Linked DNA regions of Homo sapiens. The protein of the gene in region 2 interacts with the protein of the main gene of each other region in a biochemical or structural test. Each region holds a gene or a part of one and is shown on either strand. Other genes may lie near its edges. The genes, in order: KIT, BMPR2, FST and GDF9.

Region 1 (3,570 bases), on a different chromosome or scaffold from region 2:
GCCCCAGGAGACAAGATGAAAGAAAGACAAAGAAGAGCTTCCAAGACGTGTTATGCAGGAGGCAGAGATCGTTAACATATAGTGACTGATGGAGGAAGGTTTAAAAAAAAATCAAGTTGGTTCAGATAAACACCAATAATTTGGATGATTTTCTGAACCATCTGGACCTCTTCAATCTGCAACATTTGGCTGGAGACTCTTCAAGATTTCTAGTACTTCCTGCTTCTGATTAGCATAGAAACACCATGACAACAATCTCCTTCAGAGTGTGCTGGTGGTTCCAATCCCATATGGGATCCCAAAGCACAAAGAACATCACACAGGATTGAACAATTTAGGCCATTATATCAGAAAGTTAAAGGATATATATAGGGCCAAGGTTTCGGAAAGAAGCAAAATGGCTCATTTCTTCATATAATGAGCACATGCCCAGGAGAAACTAACAAAAAGTGGTTTTGTACAGTTTCTACTACCACTTTAAACTACTCAAGTTTATAGGATTAAAAAAAAATAAAAAGTTTCACCTGGGGTTTTAAACTTTAGCCAGAGGTACAGAAAATGGCTTTAAGGGGTAATTGCCCATCAATAATATTTACTGAGGTCTCCTTGAGGACCTGGTGTTAAGAGTTCAGGAGGCAATGTCTTGCCATTGCAAGATGCAGTGGATATAAAGTGCATGAAAAGGATAGGAGAAATCTACCACACAACTGCAGCAATATACAGTATAGGGGACTGGGCAAAATAACCATGACTTCTGTTGGACTGGGTACATCTAGGAAGTCTTCTCAAATGGTGGCCCTTAAGAGCATTTCCAAAGAAAGAATAGGCAAGATATGAGAAGAATTCTTTTCTGGTTGTAAGTCAAACTCAAAGCTCTTTATACATGATTCAAATTCAGAATGGCATCAATGATGAAAGAGATGAGAATAATGTCCAGAATTTTTAAAAAATGTGCTGGAGTAGTTATGTCTTTTAATAGCATGATGAAATAAAAAGGGCAAGAGGCAAGGTATACAGGAATAATCCAGAGGTCGATGGCAAGAAGCCTACATGTGGAGATATGTTCAGAGCTCTTTGTCATTCTGCTAAAGGTTTTAAAGGGACTTTACTGTGGCAACTTGAGAGGCTTTAGCATTTTCCCTATAAACAGTATCTCACTGGAAACATGCATGTAGTACCAAGCTCAATAGTATAAATGGAAATACATGCAGGACAGAACCGTAAGAGAAACAGATATAGAATGCATTCAGTTGCATGGAACTAAAGTGTAGAAGAAAACTGAAAATACATTTTTAAAAAATCAGCAAAAATCTAGGTTTGAATCTTTAAAAACACAATTTAACTTTCTAAACTGTTAATCACATTTAAATGATTTAATAATTTTGATTTCATACCTCAGAGTACCTCAGTTCATTTTTTAAAGAATCAGCCTTGATTGCAAACCCTTATGACCCCATGAACTGCCTGTCAACAGCTAACTATTTATGTAAATCAGTCTTACCAGGAAGACTCCTTTGAATGCAGAAGATTCTTATAAAGTGCAGCTTCTGCATGATCTTCCTGCTTTGAACAAATAAATGAATCACGTTTTCTTCTCAAAAAATTCAAAAGATCACCATAGCAACAATATTCTGTAATGACCAGGGTGGGCCCTAAAAGCACATAAGAAAAGGTTAGAAAGAAGGTGAGATATATAGATTAATTCTGCCTCCCATAAAAATACCCAAGGGTGGTCATGGCCATTAATATTCAGCTTCAGTGGATCAGACTACTTAGTCCCAATACAATCCCATATATTAACACTGCTTATCAAAAAAGCAGCCTTATGTGGAGTAACATAAAACAAGCAAGCCTCTTTTAACCTGAATTTCTAAGTGACATTAGTATTTGGAGCCAAGCATGACTGCTGGTTTTACAGAGAGAAGTTACTGCTTTCAAAGATTCTACTATTATCAAGCTTCCTACGTGAATCCTCTGGTTCACTTCTGTTTACAGCAGGGCTTCACACACTCTCTGTAACGTTATTATGGAAATAATGAAGGCACAAACTGTGGCATAGTGGGAAAATCAGCCACAAGGAGCAGCCAGCTGGGACAAGACTGGAAAGTGAGTGAAAACCTAAAATGACCTGTGTTCTGAGCGCTACTAGTTGAAAAATTTTTTGGTGCTATGAATGTTTAAACTGTAGTTTAGAAGTAACAGGCAACTAATTAACTTGGGTAAGAAATTTTCTCATGAACAATTCATGATGTGGTGAAGCAACATTTATGGGGATTATTGGAAGACATGATATAAGGCTGTCAACTTTATCGTGGATCTCCAGAAACAGCTCATTTTACACATCTTTGTTTCTTTCAACTGAAATACTTTCTGCAAACATCACAGACATCCTTGATGGGAACTTCAACTAAGGCTTCAAATTGGAAACTTATTTTTAGAGAAGTGAAATGTTTGCCTCATTTGGTGTATATTTGAGAACCAGTAGGCTTAGGCGCCTGTTTTAAATTGTAGTATGCAAATTAATATTAACCCTTTCAGTGGCTACATATGATCAAGAAATGTATAAAGCTTACAAGATAACAGAAGCCTTCTGGTCGGGATGAGATATTCAAGAGGCTGATGTCGTTGATGTTACAAATACGACAATAACTAGGGTATGTCCTGGGCTGTTCTACCCCATAATGATAAAATTAAAATCTGCATTCTTAAGAACAATGAGGAAAACAAAATCTAGCAAGAGAGAACAACAGTCTGGGTAAAAAAATCTTCCAAGCAGTTTATAATCTAGCATTGCCAAAATCATATTAAAATGTCATGTTTTGATAACCTGACAGACAATAAAAGGCAGCTTGGACACGGCTTTACCTCCAATGGTGCAGGCTCCAAGTAGATTCACAATATTCATGTGATTACCAAGGTAACTCAGGACTTTGAGTTCAGACATGAGGGCTTCCCGTTCTGTCAAATGGGCACTCGCTAAAATTGGAAACATGCATTTTAGCAAAAAGCACAACTGGCAAACTGATGTCAAGCGCATGCAGTACCATACAGGAACTTACGCTTGAGCATCTTTACAGCGACAGTCATGGCCGCATCTGACTTAATTAAGCCATAAGCAGTTGCCTCAACAACCTTCCCGAAAGCTCCAGCACCCAGGGTTTTCCCTGTAGGAAGGAAGACAACAAGGTAAGTGGTGATGGTGCTGGTGGTGGAATTGAAGGACCATTTGTGCAGTTTCAAAATCAATAAAGGAATTAAAAACAATGTTGTCCAGAGACATTTTCCTACGATGTTCTCTATGGCAAACCTATCAAAAGGGGCGCAATTTCACAGAAAACTCATTGTTTCAGGTGGAACAAAACAAAGGAAGCCACTGGAGTTCCTTAAAGTCACTGTTATGTGTACCCAAAAAGGTGACATGGAAAGCCCCTGTTTCATACTGACCAAAACTCAGCCTGTTTCTGGGAAACTCCCATTTGTGATCATAAGGAAGTTGTGTTGGGTCTATGTAAACATAATTGTTTCCATTTATCTCCTCAACAACCTTCCACTGTACTTCATACATGGGTT
Region 2 (3,570 bases):
GGTCTAGTGGGGTACCCATGAATCTGTATTTCAAAATGATCAAGTACAACCCCATATTATTACAAGTAAGAAAACTATGTTAAGTAACCTATTTGCCCGGAATCATATAGAATCTAGGTCTCATTAACTCCCAACAGTGGTCTTCCCACTATACCTCTTAAACTACATACTTTATAGTTGAAGGAACTAGGACAAAGAAAAAGTTATTGGTGTGTTATTTGAGTCAATAAACAACCCTAGAATATTCCTGGTTGAAATTCCTATTTATTATTCATTCACTAAGTATTTCTTAAATGTCTACTAAATTATAAAACTAATCAGACATGAATACTGTCCTCTGGAAGCAATTATCAGTAGGAAGGACAAGGCAAATACATAAAACTGATACCTGGTCAGGTGCGGTAGCTCACACCTGTAATCCCAACACTTTGGGAGGCCAAGGTGGGTGGATCAGCTGAGGTAAGGAGTTTGAGACCAGCCTGGCCAACATGGTGAAACCCCATCTCTACTAAAAATAAAAAAATTTCGGGTGTGGTGGCTCACACCTGTAATCCCAGCACTTTGGGAGGCCAGGGCAGGTGGATCACAAGATCAGGAGTTCGAGACCGGCCTGGCTAGCATAGTGAAACCCCATCTCTACTAAAAATACAAAAATTAACCAGGCATGATGGTGCACACCTATAATCCCAGCTACTCGGGAGGCTGAGGCAGGAGAATGGCTTGAACCTGGGAGGTGGAGGTTGTAATGAGTCGAGATCGTGCCACTCCACTCCAGGCTGTGTGACAGAGCAAGACTCCATCTCAAAAAAAAAAAAAAAAAAACAAAAACAAAAACTGATATCCAGCAGCACAGCAATCTATGAGTAGGTGCCAAAATAAGTGGTGTGGCCAATTATAAAATTAACTGATTCACACAGATTCCACTCAGTATTTTTTTAATGGTTAGAATTTACCCATTAGAGATCAATATTCAATTTCTTCTCTTTTTGTTAAAAAAAAAACTGGCCTTTAATGAAGGAAAGGTTTTGTCTTGTGTGAACAGTTATCTCTCACCTCACTACTCATCCACATCAATACCACTACTATCACATCATCCCACATGCCAGAATAGCTTTTGTAGAGACCAAAGTTTATATCATTTTAATGCAAAAAACTAATTAAGAGGTTGGCCCTCTTCAAAGGGTAAGAAAAGCCTCCCTTCTGGACCATCTTACTGGTTATATGTGGTCTACTGAGAATTTCAATTCTTCGTTCTTCTGCAATAGTACTATATATCCAAATATTACATTAGCCTCATCACAGGCAAAGTGTACTTTGATACCTCTTGTTTCTGAGCTTAGCCTAGCCATATGACTCGGTCAGCCAATGGGATGTTAGGAGAGCAGAGTCTGGAAATGTGCTGGTAGGGTTGGGCTTGGCCTCTTGCACTTCTGCCAATGCCATGACACAAGCCTCCCCCAGATAGATGTTACTTCTCCCTCTAGCCTGGACCCCAGAAAGAGACACATGGAGCAGAATAAATGCCTATTGTTGCATGCCACTAAGATTTTGTGGTTGCCAATAATTACACAGCAAAATGTCACTGAATCACCATATTTAAGAAATCCAGCCCAGGCGTGGTGGCTCATGCCTATAATCCCAGCACTTTCGGAGGCAGAGGCAGGCAGATCACGAGGTCAGGAGTTTGAGATCAGCCTGGCCAATATGGTAAAACCACGTCTCTACTAAAAATACAAAAATTAGCCGGGTGTGGTGGTGCACACCTGTAGTCCCAGCTACTTGGGAGGCTGAGGCAGAAGAATCACTTGAACCCGGGAGGCAGAGGTTGCAGTGAGCTGAGATGGCGCCACTGCACTCCAGTCTGGGTGACCGAGCCAGACTCTGTCTCAAAAAAAAAAAAAAAAAAAAAAAAAAAGAAAGAAAGAAATCCAGGGCCAGGGCCAGGGCCAGGGCCAGGGCCAGGGCCAGGCACAGTGGCCCACACCTATAATCCCAGCATTTTGGGAGGCCGAGGCGGGCAGATCACCTGAGATCAGGAGTTCAAGACCAGCCTGACCAACATGGAGAAACCCTGTCTCTACTAACAATACAAAATTAGCCAGGAGTGGTGGCACATGCCTGTAATCCCAGCTACCCGAGAGGCTGAGGCAGAATTGCTTGAACCCGGGAGGTGGAGGTTGCAGTGAGCCGAGATCACACCATTGCACTCCAGCCTGGGCAACAAGAGCAAAACTCAAAAAAAAAAAAAAAAAGAAAGAAATCCAAACAATCAGGACTGATGATATAAAGCAGTGCTTCTCAAGCACCTGCTTGAGTGAGACTTTGCGGGGGTTCTCCCAGAGAGATTCATTCAGTACATCTGGACTATAGGGCCAAAAATATGCATTTTTATCAAGAACCCCAGGTAATTCTGTTGCAGTACCCACACTTTGAGAAAAACTAAAATGAAGATTACTAAACTTCAGTTACTCAGTAATATTCACTAACATTAGATTAATCTTACTTTATATAATGTGTGTGTTCCTCAAGAGATGTATGTAAAATTGCAATCTAATCAAGTGAATTATTTAAAACGCATTACAGAAGTTGACCTTTAAATAATAGCTGTGTTGTATTCTTTTATTAAGAATTCATTCATAAACCAAGCCAGCACATCTTATTTTTCATAAGTTGTTTTTTTTTTTGGGGGGGGCATAGAAAATGTTCTAAGAATTAGGCGGGGTGTGGTGGCTCATGCCTGTAATCCCAGCACTTTGGGAGGCCGAGGCAGGTGGATCACGAGGTCAGGAGTTCGAAACCACCCTGCCAAAATGGTGAAACCCCGTCTCCACTAAAAATACAAAAAATAAAAATAAATTAGCTGGGCATGGTGGTGGGCTCCCGTAATCTCAGCTAGTCTGGAGGCTGAGGCAGGAGAACCACTTGCGCCTGGGAGGCGGAAGTTGTGGTGAGCCAGGGTCGTGCCACTGCACTCCAGCCTGGGCGACAGAGTGATACTCTGTCTGAACAAAAAAGAAAGAAAGAAAGAAAGAAAGAAAGAAAATGTTCTAAGAATTAAGGAGTCCAAGAACTCAATAAGTGAGAAAGAGGGAATCAAAAGAAATGATTTATCCATGACCCCGAAAAAGGATGTGCTATCAATCAGTCTTCTAGGATTTATTTTCCTGTTCAGCTGCACCATTTGCGCCTGTCGAGTTAACATCACTGCATCTGTGTAACCCAAATCCACACAGGCCCTCTCTAATCAGCTTGCACTTAATGAAGCTGCACTAGCCACTTCAATATTAGGCCAAGCAAAGTTTTACATGTTCAGAACTACGACATTTGCATAACCACTGCTGCACTAACACCTTGTAAGTGTCCCTGCTTCTTTACAAAGGTTGATCTGGTGAAGGCTAATTACTCCATCTCATATATCCAATAAGATGAGAAGTTGTTGCTGCTAGTGCTGCTGTTACCATTAATGTGGTATGTGAGGGCGCACACTATAATCCTGGCTCCATAATTTACTGACTGTGTGGTGAGTTATTCAAATTCTCTGTACTTTACTCTCCCTCTATGGAAAAGGGG
Region 3 (4,076 bases), on a different chromosome or scaffold from region 2:
AACCATGGACATCATTGTGGAAATTCACCTCCACCCCATCCTCACCTCATCAAGTCCCTAGCATTCCAACACTATAATGTCTACTTCTGCAGCTGATATTCTGATTTCTAGAATGTGTTTGTCAAATATTATATCTGTTGTCAGCTTTCCTTGTGATGTGTGTTGTTTTTTAAAAGACTGAAACTGCACTGGATTTATGGGAAAGTAAGATGAAGCGTGTCCCTGGCTATGGTGATGAGCTTGCAACAAGGACAGCTAAAACGATGGTGTTTTTAAAGAGGAAATATTAGCCTTGGCATATTGCAGGAAAGAACCCACATCTACAGTCTGTTCCTTCTGTGGTTAGTGACAGGTATATGCCACTCCTACAGTGGGGTTGCTGGACCTCAGATCCCTTTATCTTTCAAACTCCAGTGAAGTGATCTGTACTGCCCTGGCCATGTAATTTCAGAGATAGCTACATTCCTCAGCAAAGGTATCATACACATTTTTACTCAAAAGTCCAAATAACTTCTTTGCATCATCAGGAATTGAAACCATTGGCTTTTTAAAATTTTTTTATTTTTTCACTCATCATTTATTTACAAATACACATTATAACTTTTATATACATTGCACATTTACATGGTAGAAAAGTACAAAACTATATATTTAAATGAATTTATATTTTAACTTGCCATGTTTGAAAATATAAAATTGCATCAGAAAAAAGTATTATGAAAAGCAAGAAACTTGAACTGATAAAGCTTTGATATAACTTTTAGTGATATACTGGTTGAAAAAGAACTAATTTAAAAGGTACAGCTGAGTAGCTTAAAGGAAACACCTAACAAAAGGTTGAATGTGTAGCCTTCAACATCCTTTAGTCTCCTGACACCCACATCATTTCTTTGTATCTGTAACATCTTAAAAGTACATTACTAGAATTCTAATCATCTCCTCTCTCACAAATGTCTTCATCATAACAAAAGAACTGAAGTAGGAGTTTCCTCAAAGATGCTTATCTTCTGTACCTTGTATTTGAGTCAGAGTTATAATGCCTTTTGGTCAGTCAAGGTTCCTTGTAAACAAAACCCGAGGGATCATGTATGTACAGATCAGGCAGCAGAGAATCCAATAAATAAACATGACAGAAACTGACATGCAAGTTTGTTGAAAGTGGAAAAGAGTCTAACAGTGAAATGAAGGGAGACAGATGAGTGAGTGAATAGTAAGGAATGGACTTAAATGGTTTACAAGGAAAAAAAGCTTTTACTTTACAAGCAAGAGACCTCACAATAAATAACAACTGCTCTTCCTTTCACGAATAAATTTCTTCAAAAACAAGGTATACAGTCAACCAGACATTTTATGTATAAATTATAAAACATGACACAGTATAAATAAATGTCTACAAGTCTCAACTATGGGCCTCATCCAGTAGACCTCACAATGAATGCCTCTCCGTGTCCAATGAGTAACAAGGTGGCCTGGGAGAGAGCTTTAGGACAAAGGTCCTTTAATGTATAGTTTTCCCCCCAAATAAATAAGCATACACTTATTTACAGTATGGACAATATATTTTTCTTTTTTTCTTTTTCTTTTTTTTTTTTTTTTTTTTTGCACAAAGGCTATGTCAACACTGAACACTTATAGAGAGTTTACCACTCTAGAATAGAAGATATAGGAAAGCTGTAGTCCTGGTCTTCATCTTCCTCCTCTTCCTCGGTGTCTTCCGAAATGGCTAGATGGGGGAATACAGGGGAGCTGTTGTTTAAATACGGACAACAACAGCGCAGAAGCAGCTCAGTGTATGTTTTCAAAGCCCTCTGATACAGCCATATTACAGCGTTGCATTTTTATGTGACTTGCAGTGAGATGCTTTTTTTGTTTTTGGCATCTGCTGTTATGCAATAAGTTAAAAAAATTTTTTTAAAGCATAATCTATGAAGTCAAAAACTGCAGAAAGTTCTGAAGAATCAATGGCTCAGGTTTTACGGGCAGATTCCTGAAATTAGATAAAAAGCGCTCTTGTGTTCTAGGTATAACTGCTTTGGGTCCTTAATTCAGAGTTAGTAGAGGCAACTGCAAAAAGCAGCAGCCCATGTGTGATAATATGAAGCTGTCGTTGGAAAAAAAAAAAAAAAACTTTTGAAGCAGTTAGTTTAGACTCAAATGTTAATAAAGCAAACAGCAAAGCACACTACCAAAACACAAGAAATAGGGGAAAACAACTGGAAATAGATTTCTAGAGGCAACCCCATTGATGATCACCAGATAAGTCCTAAAAGCCAAGAAACATCGCAGAGAATTTTCTGTGGATTATTGAATTGCTGGTGATACTTAGCAGCTACCTAATTTGAACAGAAATGGATTTATGGGAGATCTGCGTGCTTTGTAAGTGTCCATTCCCTAGGGATTGCCTGGGAAAGCCTTAAATGGCAGCAAGGTTAAAAATCGCACTTACAGTTGCAAGATCCGGAGTGCTTTACTTCCAGTAGCACACCTGAGGAGCAGGCAGCTTCCTTCATGGCACACTCGCTGGCATAAGTGGCATTGTCACTGGCACAGACAGGCTCATCCGACTTACTGTCAGGGCACAGCTCATCACAGAGGGAACACCGGCCTCTCCCAACCTTGAAATCCCATAAACATTTTTTCCCACCAGTGCACTGGATATCTTCACAGGACTTTGCTTCTAGGATATAATACATCTGTGATGAGTAAACTGATTTCCCCATATCCCCCTTTTCTCCCTTTCTCTAGTCCTCTATCAATAAATATAAACATAATTTATTTTATATAAACATAATAGTAATAGCCTATTACTAATGGGGGTAATGGAGATATTATGCAAAAATGCTGGATAATAAAACTGAAACTCAAATGCACACACACATACACACGCACAAAACCCCTGCAGTTTCTTACATACTACATTAGTGCATTAAAAGGGTATTTTTTTAAGAACAGGATTTTACAATATTCTCAAGTTAAATATGTATCTTATTATTTCCCACAAGTGGGATCTTTTACAAAAGAAAGAATTCCATTAATTACTAGAATCTGACAACAGATTTCTGGAACTGCTAAGTAATTATTTTTCGCTTCCAGCAAGTCTGGCACTTAAAAAAATGTGTAAAATTGAGTAAGTTCTAAGTTTTCTAAGACGGAATACTGTTCCTTGCTTCCTGCTGGCATTTGAATATATGTGTCAATGCCTCCAGAAGACAATGGTTTCCATGAGGAATACTGTGGTCACAACACTTTCCCCAAATTGCAGCGTATTTCTCCCTATGGTGTTTGGGGACGCCTTGGGCTTTACTTATTAGTTAACCCCACAGTTTAATAATAGAACTAGCCTGTTTTCTCTTTTTCCTTCCTCAATCCAGAATACCTACTGATACACTTTCCCTCATAGGCTAATCCAATAGATCTGCCCAGCAGGCAGGTAGCCTTTCTCAGGTGGCAGGCACTGGAGTAGGTGACTCCATCATTCCCACAGAGATATTGCTCAGAGGAAGCAGGCTCTGGGCAAATCCGATTACAGGTCACACAGTAGGCATTATTGGTCTGGTCCACCACACATGTGGAGCTGCCTGGACAGAAAACATCCCGACAAGTCTCTGGAACAAAGAAGGAAACACACATGAATAGGTACCTTCTAGTCCTTAGGGAGTGAGCACTTGAAGTTACCAAGGAAATCATGACACTGAAGCATCCAGCTTTCAAAAGGCACTTAGGGAGCCCTGTAGTTTTCAAGAGAGAATCTATGACTAGGTTGGTCCCCTCAGTGTTCTTAATGAATCTCTAGAGGTTAGAAAAGGACTCCTTTATTTGGTTTCAGTATTACTATTATCAGGCTCTTACTGCGGACTACACCATCCCCCAAGGGTCTTCTAGAGGGTCTACTTTAGGTACAAAGCTGGAGGAGGGGACAGATCCAGTCTTGCTCAACAGGGTAGGACCTACTTTTACATCTGCCTTGGTACTGGACTTCCAGTTCTGGCTGCTCTTTACATCTTGCCTTTAGGAGTGCACATTCATTGCGGTAGGTTTTCCCATCCAGCCCGCAGACTGGACCCTTCCAGGTGATG
Region 4 (2,855 bases), on a different chromosome or scaffold from region 2:
ATAAAAACCCTAGCATCCACATAAGACCCAGTCAATAACATAACCAGTCACTACTGCAAGCTTAGTAGGAACAGTTATAAATCTATCTGGAAAAAAACCTGTGGGGGTGGAGTGGAGGGAGCTAAGCAAATCAGCAAAAACCAAACCAAAACAAAAAACCTTCCCTGGCTGCCTTTCATAAGGTCAGAGGTTTTAAATATATAAAGAAAAAAATACACTTACAAAGTCTTGTACGTAGGTTTTCTTGGAAAAACATGCAAGGCAATTTCCTTTACATGAATGGGACAAATGTTATATTGTTCTGTGTGACTCGATTGATTTATATATGCTAGTTAACAAGGAGAATTAGTATACTGTTCACCAATCACACTAAAGCAACGGAAATGGGTTACACTGCCTGCTCTCTAGTCCTAGTGAGTCTTAACTTCATGAGAATTTCGGTGACATTAGCCTCCCTTTCACTCTGAAAAAGGATCAAAAGTCGAGCTATGGCCAGCTTTTAGACACTTCCTCTCCCCCACTAAATGATCAGCTTAAAAGCAATATTTAATAAAACACACACAAAATTTATGCCATTGACAGAAATTTATTCTTCTATTAAGACTACAGCAATCTGAATTGCCTATTTATAGCTGCAAGTCCATCCAGGATTGATGCTAATTAAGGTTTTTTCCCTATCAAGAATAAGACTCCTATGAAAAGAAAAAAAATCACTCAAGGAAAAAAATGTAAAGTTCTCCACAATAATTATATTTCATTTAAATTTGGAAATAAAAAAAGGCTCTGTAGCAACAATTGATGTTATCCCTTTATCCTGATAGATGCCATAGAAGGTACTAACCTACACAGGCTCCTCTTTATATAACATATGCTACATTTAGAGACTTAATATATGAAGCTTTCTCTTGAAGGCACACATAGGCACACAGTAGTTACTTTGCCAAATAGGCTCAAGGTTTTAAGAGGACCATTTGTTAACGACAGGTGCACTTTGTAGCTATCATATCTTCGTACTCTTTATAGGCAATTGAGCCATCGGGCTCAATGGTCAAAACACTCAAGGGGCTGTATTTGGCAGGTACACATGACGGTCTTGGCACTGAGGAGTCCAGCTTCTCATAGATGATGTTCTGTACCATGGTGTGAACTGGAGAGCCATACCGATGTCCAACTGCCCTTGGACAGTCCCCTTTACAGTATCGAGGGTTGTACCTGTGCGGAGCCACAATCCAGTTGTCCCACTTCAGCTGACTAAAGCTAAGTCTAAAGTCATGGAGCTCACACTCATTTTGGGGAAGAAGAAATTGTCTGAAGTATTCACTCAGATTGAAGGAAGCTGGGCCCAAGGGCTTCTTCAATTCAGAACTGACAGTTTCCTGACCTCTGCGGTGACGGTGATGGGAAGATCTCCCATCCTCAGCAGCCTCTTCTCCCACAGGATAGGCAGACAGACTTCTCTCCTGGTCAGGACCCTGGGAAGGCCTCCTTTTATAGTGAAGGGAATACCAGCTGTGATAAGCCTGAGCACTTGTGTCATTCAAATATAAGATCAGTGAGGGGGACACCAGAGTCATGTTAAACAAACCATTCTGTGCTGAAGGATGCTCCAGCTGGTCTTTCATGCAAGTAAAATTTATAGACATGTGAATACTTCTCTTGTTGGAGGCCACTAAAGGTTGAAGGAGGCTGGTCACATCAATCTGAATCCATTTGTGTTTCTTTCCAAATTCAAACTGTGAGTTAAAGGTAAATGAGTATGGAGCTCTGCCGAGAGTCCTGCTAGAAGACTTTGGCTCCTTTATCATTAGATTGCACACACATTTGACAGCAGAGGAAAAAGAAACTGAGTTGTTGATATTGTACAGCAAGACTGACTTGAGTAAGTGTTCAACGGTAGTAATGCGATCCAGGTTAAATAGCAGTTCCACTGATGGAAGGATTCCTAAGAAGAAAAAAAATCTACCAGTAGTGCTTGAAAATCAGTCAACACAACAGGCAGTCAAGTCAAAGAATTAGTACTTCATAATATGCTTTCTCCCTTCTCTTTTCCCCACTTTCTCAAGCCTCAAAAAAAAAAATGGGGGTTAATATAGAAAAGGAAGGCAATTGGTATCATTACTAATTCCCAGCAACCTTACTGGACATTTTATCTCCAGAAAGTCAGATTTGGTGGTGAATCAAAGTAACAGGGAATCACTACATTCTGAAGTTTCATTTTTATTTTTTATTTTTTTGAGACAGGGTCTCACTGTTACCCAGGCTGGAGTGCAGTGGCACCATCATGGCTCACTGCAGCCTCAACCTCCCAGGTGCAACTGATCCTCCCACCTTAGCCTCCCAAGTAGCTGGGACTACAGGCATGAGCTACCATGCCCAGCTGATTTTTTGTTTTTGTAGAGACAAGGTCTCGCCATGTTGCCCAGACTGGTCTTGAACTTCTGGGCTCAGGCGATCCTCTCACCTCAACCTCCCAAAGTGCTGGGATCACAGGCATGAGCCACTGTGCTCAGCCTGAAGCTTCATTCTGAGTAATTTGCTCCAAACACAGAAGCAGCTGAGCTGATAAGGAAAGTAGTATTTTTCTCTTGGATAATCTCTAGAGGGAAAACCATAATAGAAACACTTATCAGACTTACTAAGATGACATTCTAAGCCCTAGTGAAGAAAGTCAATTTAAAACAATGTAATTGGTCCTAGTTAATTTAGAACACTTGAGATTAAAAACAGATGCTCTAAAACCACTATATTAAAATAGGATATTAAGGAAGCAGATACAACTGCCCTGTTGGGTTAGAATGGTTTTAAATCAAGAGCTGGTAGATATATACTTTTTTTTTTTTTTTTGAGACAGAGTC

The links.
Region 1: the proteins of BMPR2 (region 2) and KIT form a complex in vitro, tested with the Homo sapiens proteins (one study listed by BioGRID).
Region 3: the proteins of BMPR2 (region 2) and FST are reported together in a solved structure, tested with the Homo sapiens proteins (one study listed by BioGRID).
Region 4: the proteins of BMPR2 (region 2) and GDF9 form a complex in vitro, tested with the Homo sapiens proteins (one study listed by BioGRID).

The regions. Positions count from the first base shown.
Region 1 is NC_000004.12:54,727,417-54,730,986, reverse strand, and holds part of KIT (mast/stem cell growth factor receptor Kit isoform 1 precursor), read right to left. Parts: coding exon 3,445-3,570; intron 3,165-3,444; coding exon 3,060-3,164; intron 2,977-3,059; coding exon 2,866-2,976; intron 1,653-2,865; coding exon 1,502-1,652; intron 1-1,501. UniProt on the Homo sapiens protein: Tyrosine-protein kinase that acts as a cell-surface receptor for the cytokine KITLG/SCF and plays an essential role in the regulation of cell survival and proliferation, hematopoiesis, stem cell maintenance, gametogenesis, mast cell development, migration and function, and in melanogenesis.
Region 2 is NC_000002.12:202,379,311-202,382,880, reverse strand, and holds part of BMPR2 (bone morphogenetic protein receptor type-2 precursor), read right to left. Parts: intron 1-3,570. UniProt on the Homo sapiens protein: On ligand binding, forms a receptor complex consisting of two type II and two type I transmembrane serine/threonine kinases.
Region 3 is NC_000005.10:53,483,598-53,487,673, reverse strand, and holds the end of FST (follistatin isoform FST344 precursor), read right to left. Parts: coding exon 3,952-4,076; intron 3,606-3,951; coding exon 3,381-3,605; coding exon of another isoform or gene 3,342-3,380; intron 2,678-3,341; coding exon 2,447-2,677; intron 1,988-2,446; coding exon of another isoform or gene 1,986-1,987; exon of another isoform or gene 1,747-1,985; coding exon of another isoform or gene 1,724-1,746; coding exon 1,641-1,723; 3' UTR 540-1,640; downstream 1-539. UniProt on the Homo sapiens protein: Multifunctional regulatory protein whose primary function is to antagonize members of the transforming growth factor beta (TGF-beta) superfamily including activin, myostatin, GDF11 or bone morphogenetic proteins (BMPs).
Region 4 is NC_000005.10:132,860,615-132,863,469, forward strand, and holds the end of GDF9 (growth/differentiation factor 9 isoform 1 preproprotein), read right to left. Parts: intron 1,943-2,855; coding exon 975-1,942; 3' UTR 571-974; downstream 1-570. UniProt on the Homo sapiens protein: Required for ovarian folliculogenesis. Promotes primordial follicle development. Stimulates granulosa cell proliferation. Promotes cell transition from G0/G1 to S and G2/M phases, through an increase of CCND1 and CCNE1 expression, and RB1 phosphorylation.